Homo sapiens: one gene and its partner. The protein of the gene in region 2 interacts with the protein of the main gene of each other region in a biochemical or structural test. Each region holds a gene or a part of one and is shown on either strand. Other genes may lie near its edges.

Evidence for each region. Proteins that work in one complex are often made in the same cells at the same time.
Region 1: the proteins of SLC15A2 (region 2) and HTRA1 interact in a test that uses a peptide from one of them, tested with the Homo sapiens proteins (one large-scale study listed by IntAct).

Annotation. Positions count from the first base shown.
Region 1 is NC_000010.11:122,464,553-122,468,052, reverse strand, and holds part of HTRA1 (serine protease HTRA1 precursor), read right to left. Parts: intron 1-3,500. UniProt on the Homo sapiens protein: Serine protease with a variety of targets, including extracellular matrix proteins such as fibronectin. HTRA1-generated fibronectin fragments further induce synovial cells to up-regulate MMP1 and MMP3 production.
Region 2 is NC_000003.12:121,928,901-121,932,400, forward strand, and holds part of SLC15A2 (solute carrier family 15 member 2), read left to right. Parts: intron 1-81; coding exon 82-246; intron 247-401; coding exon 402-448; intron 449-1,939; coding exon 1,940-2,050; intron 2,051-2,225; coding exon of another isoform or gene 2,226-2,271; exon of another isoform or gene 2,272-2,732; intron 2,733-2,738; coding exon 2,739-2,835; intron 2,836-3,500. UniProt on the Homo sapiens protein: Proton-coupled amino-acid transporter that transports oligopeptides of 2 to 4 amino acids with a preference for dipeptides. Transports neutral and anionic dipeptides with a proton to peptide stoichiometry of 2:1 or 3:1.

The DNA.
Region 1 (3,500 bases), on a different chromosome or scaffold from region 2:
ATGAATTTAGAAATGGAACTCTCAGCACTGACTCCAAAAACTGAACTCTGCATCTTTCCGGCAGTGATGGACATGCCTCTTCGCAGCCACTTACTTCTGTCCTGAGGCGTGTTGTCCTGGCTAATGTCCCCCTGTGGTTCTAGGCACACGTCACCAAGTAGTGCTGAATCACTGTAACTTCCATGCCACTTCCAGGAGCCTTTTGGAAACACATTCAGAATGGCTACACTTCTCGGTTTCTCTATTAATAGGATTTTTCTCTTTCTTCTTTTTTTTTTAACGGCAGAGAAGGTGGAGAAGGAAAAGATGAAATGACACAAGGGTATCTCACTTCAGATGACCCAAAGGCCTTGGAGCCCCAGGGAAGGAGCAAGGGGTATGAGTCTCGTGGAAGCTCATCTCTTGGAGATGAACATGTCACCCCTGTGGTCTCCCGGGGACTTCAGCAGCCAGTACAAAGCTGAAACACAAAGCAACCAGGCTCAAGATGGATCACATCTATTCGATGCCAGCCTTGGCTTTAACCATCAATAATTTAGGAAAAAGAAGTAGCTCATAAGGAAGCCTCCCCAGGCTTTAAATTAGGAATGAGGTGACCACAACCTCCTCAAAGACTTGTTTTCTTAGAAAAATCCCAGACCATTCTAGTTAAAAGGAGCCTCAGAGATCAACTGGCCCAATCCCCTCACTGCCGAGGCTCCGAGAGGTCGAGGGAGCTGTTACCTGGTCAGGTAACACCCCAGGAAGGGCCAGAGCCGCTTGCCCTCAGCCCCTCCGCCCCAGTTGGCCTTCCAAGGAACCCTCACCCACTGCCAAGCTTACTTCTTCTTCAAATTAAGCCTGACCAGAGCTATTTATTCACTTGAAATATAAGCTCATGGAAAGTCTGATTTCTGAATCCAAGGCATGAAACTCATCCAGGATCACACAGCTCCAAACGGAGAATCCAGCCCCAAAGCGGAGGCCATCAGGCTTCTGACCACAGTTAGCTCATGGTGCCCGCCACCATCACTTACTCAATGCAGTTATTTTAAGTTCCAATGCAACCCATTTACAGCTCTCTCAGTGGAATGAAGTAACTCAAACACTTGGTTTTTGAGCTTGTTAACTTCCTAATTTTATGAAGCCTTAATATTTTAACTCTTTAGCAAAACCAACAGAGCAATAAAAGAAGGCAGCCGACCAGAGCAGGCAGAGACTCATAAACTGCTCAAAAGACCTCCAAGTTTCCAAGTTTCAGGTGACTAAAAGCTGGAGACTCACAAATGTTTCCACCCACCCTGCCCTAAGATGAAGCTCAGGTCCCTGGCACACTTGTTTTTTAACTGACAAAAGGTGTATTTGAATTGCCAATAGTGAAAATGACTCTCGAGCAAACTGCCCACTTTAACAATGGAAAAATACAACCCCAGGGAAGCAGTGATTGTATTTTCCCCCATTGTATTGAATATAAGTTACCTGTGGGCAGTGACTTTGTTTTATTCAACCCTGTCTCCCCAGAGCTCAGTACAGGGTCAGCACTCAGCTAGCAATGATTGCTTGTTTGAGGTTCCCACGAAAGAGTCACCTAAATAAAGTACATTTTGGCACGGGTGCAGTGGCTCACTCCTGTAATCCCAGCACTTTGGGAGGCCAAAGCGGGCGGATCACAAGGTCAGGAGATGGAGACCATCCTGGCTAACACGGTGAAACCCCGTCTCTACCAAAAAATACAAAAAAATTAGCTGGGCGTGGTGGCGGGTGCCTGTAGTCCCAGCTACTCTGGAGGCTAAGGCAGGAGAATGGCATGAACCCGGGAGGTGGAGCTTGCAGTGAGCCGAGATCGCGCCACTGCACTCCAGCGTAGGCGACAGAACGAGACACTGTCTCAAAAAAAAAAGTAAATTTTACAAACATTCCAGGGCTCCAAGAAGTAAAGCAACCATCTAAGCCCTTGGTTCTTCACCAGGTATGTACATACAGCCTCTGCCTTTAGAGGCTCTGGGGTGAGACCAGGAGCAGGCGATCCTAAAAACCTCCAGGGGTGGAGTTTCTGGGCACCCCTGCAGCTTGCAGACCTCCAAGCTTGTCTGGGCTGCTGCATGGAGTAGGGTGGGCTTTCCTGGAGGATGTACTAGCAGGAGAAATGGATGAGGCTTCTGCTGTTTGGGAAGTCTGTTTCAGGTCTCGTTCCTGGCTTCTTGTCCATGTTTTAGCAGAGGTCCGGAATCCCGGCTGGTCTTTTGGGACATGGGGGAATCTGGAAGGGCTTTCTCTCTTCAAGAGCAGTTTGTCTGGATCTCTGGCTTGGAAACAGCCTTCCTACAGTCCCTCGGCTCTTTTTGCTTTTCTTTAGTGAGGGCTGCACTGACGGCAACTGGAGGCAACCTTGTCTTCAGGCTCCTGAGCCTGCAGAGTGAAGGCTGTGATCTGTCCTGTTCCATCTCTAAGCCACAGCCATCTGGAGCCCTGTTTATTTCAGCTATTAGCTGGGGCTTAGCTGGGGTTGGTTTAAAATCTCTGTTGCTCTGTCAACAGCACAGCATGGTGGTTATGAACGAGGCTCTCCATCCAGTTGTGTGGGACCACCAGTCCTGAGCAAGGTACTTCTCTGTGACTTAGCTGCCCAGCTGTAACCCAGGGAAGACTACAGCACTCACTCATAGGACTGTCCGGAGGATCAAATGAATTAGTATGCACCCGGCATAGAATAAGCACAACATATATGTTAGCCCTCATTATTAGTACCCTATTAGTATTTCAATTCCTTTCTTTTTTGTAATCATCTGACCAGTACAGCTGGAGATGACAGATCTTTGTTCTCTAGCTGAATTGTATACTTTCCCATCCAAACCCTGCCAGTGCATTGACTTCTGAAATAGATGATTTGCCTTCATTTCCAGAGCGGTGAGCAGAGATGTTCTCTGAGGTCTATTCAATAAACAGCTTACAGATGAAAGTGCTTTCCTTTGAATGGTGACATGTTCCTCTATCCAAAGATCTACTGTGACCCAAAGTGCTAGTCACCTCCCTGGGGACCCCTGATCTGATGACATTTCTACCTCTCATCCCCTGGCATGCTCTGCCCCAGACAAAGCCACCTTATAATATTTGAAATCGCAGCACCCGCTCCTGCCTCGAGAGCTCTGTCTCCAGATCCGTGTATGACTTGCTCCAACTCCAGGCCTCTAGTCAAGTGGCACCCCTAGAAAAGGCTCATGTCCATGGCAGCTAAAGTGACTCTCCCGCCAATCTTCCAGCCAGAGCAGGCAGCCAATTCACCTCATTTAACAGTGACGTCAAGTGACCTGCCCGTGGGCACCAGCTGTTGAGTCCTGGAGCCTGGCTTGGACTGAATGAAGTCTGCTGGCTCCCAGGCGCCTGTCCTCGGAAACACCTCCGAAAAGTCAAGGGTGGAGTGTGAGATCCAGAGAGGGGGCGCAGCAAAGCAGTGCCTTCCACTAAGGAAAAACAGAATGGCTGTGTATCGCAAGCACCTCCCGTTTGTCTTCATTCATTCA
Region 2 (3,500 bases):
TACCCTGAGATGCTACATCGTGATGTCCAATATGCAGTAGAAGGTGTACGTGACCTTCATTTTATATTCTTCATTTTACAGAAAACACCACACTATTCCAAACTGCACCTGAAAACAAAAAGCCAGGATTTTCACTTCCACCTGAAATATCACAATTTGTCTCTCTACACTGAGCATTCTGTGCAGGAGAAGAACTGGTACAGTCTTGTCATTCGTGAAGATGGGAACAGTATCTCCAGCATGATGGTAATTTGAGGAATTGCCTGTGTTTTCAGTTGTCATCTCAAAGTAATATGACTGTCTCATCAACATCTTACCAAGGATCTGCCTGATGATCAAATTTTCTGAGTATAGGTCTTATTTCATCAGCTGTTACTGATTTTTACTTTCCTCTGTTGTAGGTAAAGGATACAGAAAGCAGAACAACCAATGGGATGACAACCGTGAGGTTTGAATGTCAATGAGATTCCAGGCCACTCTGTTTTCTTGAATCTTGGATCTCTTCTAATCTTTGGGGCTGCATTCTACTTGTTCTGAACAGGAATTCCCTCTCGTAGAATGCCAGGGGCACTGGTGTCAAAAGGCATTTTCTAGGACAGTGAGAGGCAGATAGGCTTCTTTTCTCATGTGGGATTCGAAGATGACTCTATCTGTGTATGCCCCCTGTACTCTGGGGCATAAATCCTTTCTGCTGAATTTTATCTATTTATCTTGCTCTCAGGAAAATAACTGAGTACTTTTCTCTCTGTGATCGCCAGAGAGAAATTTGGAAGTGAGAAAATAATCCTCCCTTCATTTTTGATAGTTGAATATATATCTTTTAAAGTATAGTTTTTATTATAAGCCTGTAGAGGCATCATGGTATAGCACACATTTGGAGTCAAAAGACTTAGTTTTGAATCCAGATAAGGCTGAAGGGTCTTGTCAAATGGTGAGGGACAGTTACAGAGATGGAGTACCCAAGAGGACATGTGTTCTCTGTGGCTGGTATTAGATATGAAATGGACAGATACACAGGTCTATGGCCACCAAGGTCAAGTGGTTGCTGTTGAGAATAGCATTTTAGTGGAGAACTTTTAGTGAAAAGTCTGGATTTCACTGAAGGTTGGGACAGTCATAATAACTTGCTTTTGAATATGCTTCAAAAAAAGTAAACAGCTCAAAATAAGACAATGTGAGGTCAGAGAGCCATGGGCCCCCAGAAGGGGCATTTTCTAGGTCAGTGTAGAATGATCTAAAGTCTAGGAATCAACATTCAGGACTCTAAAGGGAAATGTCCTTCTTATTCCTGGGGCCAGAGACCAAATCAAAAGCTATCAAAACAGAAATGTACCAAAACCCATCCTGAGAGGACAATCTAGGTGCCAGGTTCAGAAAAATAGAAAGATGGTCTTGGAAGGGTCCAAAGTTTCTGCAGACTCCAAAACAATTATAATAACCTACTCTGGGCTGGGAGTCTGAGTTTTGCATAGGTCACATTGGACTTCATTTATAAGAGGATAAGATATCAGTTTTATGTAAATACTATCATATCTTTATATATGCATAATTATCTTATTTTTCTTAGTAAAGTCTCAGTTGATAGATTCCACCATTATAAGGGAAATAAATTAGATGCACCTAAGCTGGATTAGTGAGGAAACTCAGATTTCCATGAATGATCATGATAGTGTCCGTCTAGCTAGAGGTCTGGTGAGGATGTGGCAGATAAAAGTTCAAGAAAAAGAAACTTAGGGACAGCTAAGACTATGGATTACTTTTTACGTGTGGGTTCATTCGTCTAGTTAACAATATACATTAGGTACCTTTTATGTGCCAGCCACTATCCTAGGCACCTGGGCACTGGGGATATAGTTATACCCAAAACATAAAAGGCCCCTAACCTCTTTTATCAGGTGTTCCTGTTTGTTTGATATGTAAATAATATCTCTACCCTCAGGTTTGTTAACACTTTGCATAAAGATGTCAACATCTCCCTGAGTACAGATACCTCTCTCAATGTTGGTGAAGACTATGGTGTGTCTGCTTATAGAACTGTGCAAAGAGGAGAGTAAGTGCATTGCCCCTGTGGACATTTTACTTTTGTCAATAATTGTTTTTTAAGTGCTATCTTTGTATATAGGTGGGGAACTTAGGTGCATGTGGTCTAATTTTGAGTATAGACGCACTACTGATCTTTTCCAACTCTTGCTTCCTTCCCTCAGTCTCACTTTTTTTCTGCACAGATATGTTGAGATCACGATTGCCGTGAAGACCACACTATATAGTTAACACAGCCCATCTCTGTATAGTTAACACAGTCCGTCTCTGTGAGTTTCTCAAAGTTTATTATTGGTTTCCATTTCTACTAAAGAAGGTACTTTGGTACCTTACACTGGCACTTCATTACTTAGAGCTTATCTTCTCAGGTTCACTGTTATAGCCTGTTCTACTAAGTCATAAGATTTGCATGAGGAAAATTCACATGGTACTTAAGTTAACAAAAGAATATGATTTGTAACTTCTTTATTTAGGTTGAATATTTTAGAAAATACCTGACAAGCAATAAAGAGCTCAAATCAGGGACAGAAGCCTGGCATGAAAATAACCTACTCCAAGAAACATTTCTCTTCAAAGATAATTAGTGGCTTCACTGCTTTCCTCACCATCAGTAGAGAGATGAGATCACTTTCACCTGGAGATGGGAATGCTTTTCCAAGCCTTGATATTTATTCTAACCTAAATTCATCCTGTTCCAGATACCCTGCAGTGCACTGTAGAACAGAAGATAAGAACTTTTCTCTGAATTTGGGTCTTCTAGACTTTGGTGCAGCATATCTGTTTGTTATTACTAATGTAAGTAGCTCACAGCCACCTCTTTACCCTCTCTCCATATACATATATCTCCTGAGATCCTCTAGGCAGGGGCAGAAAACAAAAGAGAAGACTCTGTGGCAAAGCAGACACGTATATTTATTTCTAGCATAAGATGACAGGTTCTACAGTGACTTTAATTATTTTTATTTTTATTTTTTTTGAGACAGAGTTTCGCTCTCATCGCGCAGGCTGGAGTGCTGTGGCACCATCTCGACTCACTGCAACCTCTGCCTCCCGGGTTAAAGTGATTCTCCTGCCTCAACCTCCCCGAGTATCTGGGATTACAGGCACCCACCACCACCATGCCCAGCTAATTTTTGTATTTTTAGTAGAGATGGGGTTTTGCCGTGTTGGCCAGGCTGGTCTCAAACTCCTGACCTCAGATGATCCACCAGCCTCAGCCTCCCAAAGTGTTGAGATTACAAGCGTGAGTCACCGCACCTGGCTCTACAGTGACTTTAGAAAGCCCACTGTCTCTGTAGGGGTTGTTAAGAGATAACATCAACAACAAGCAAAGGGTCTTGGGGAAGGAGAAACATAATTTATCTTGAGCCATCACTGTGAGATGCCACAGCTTGCTCCAGTCTTTTTATGTCTCCAATCAAACACAAGTTATTTATGAAAAAGTACTAATGTCTTCTTGG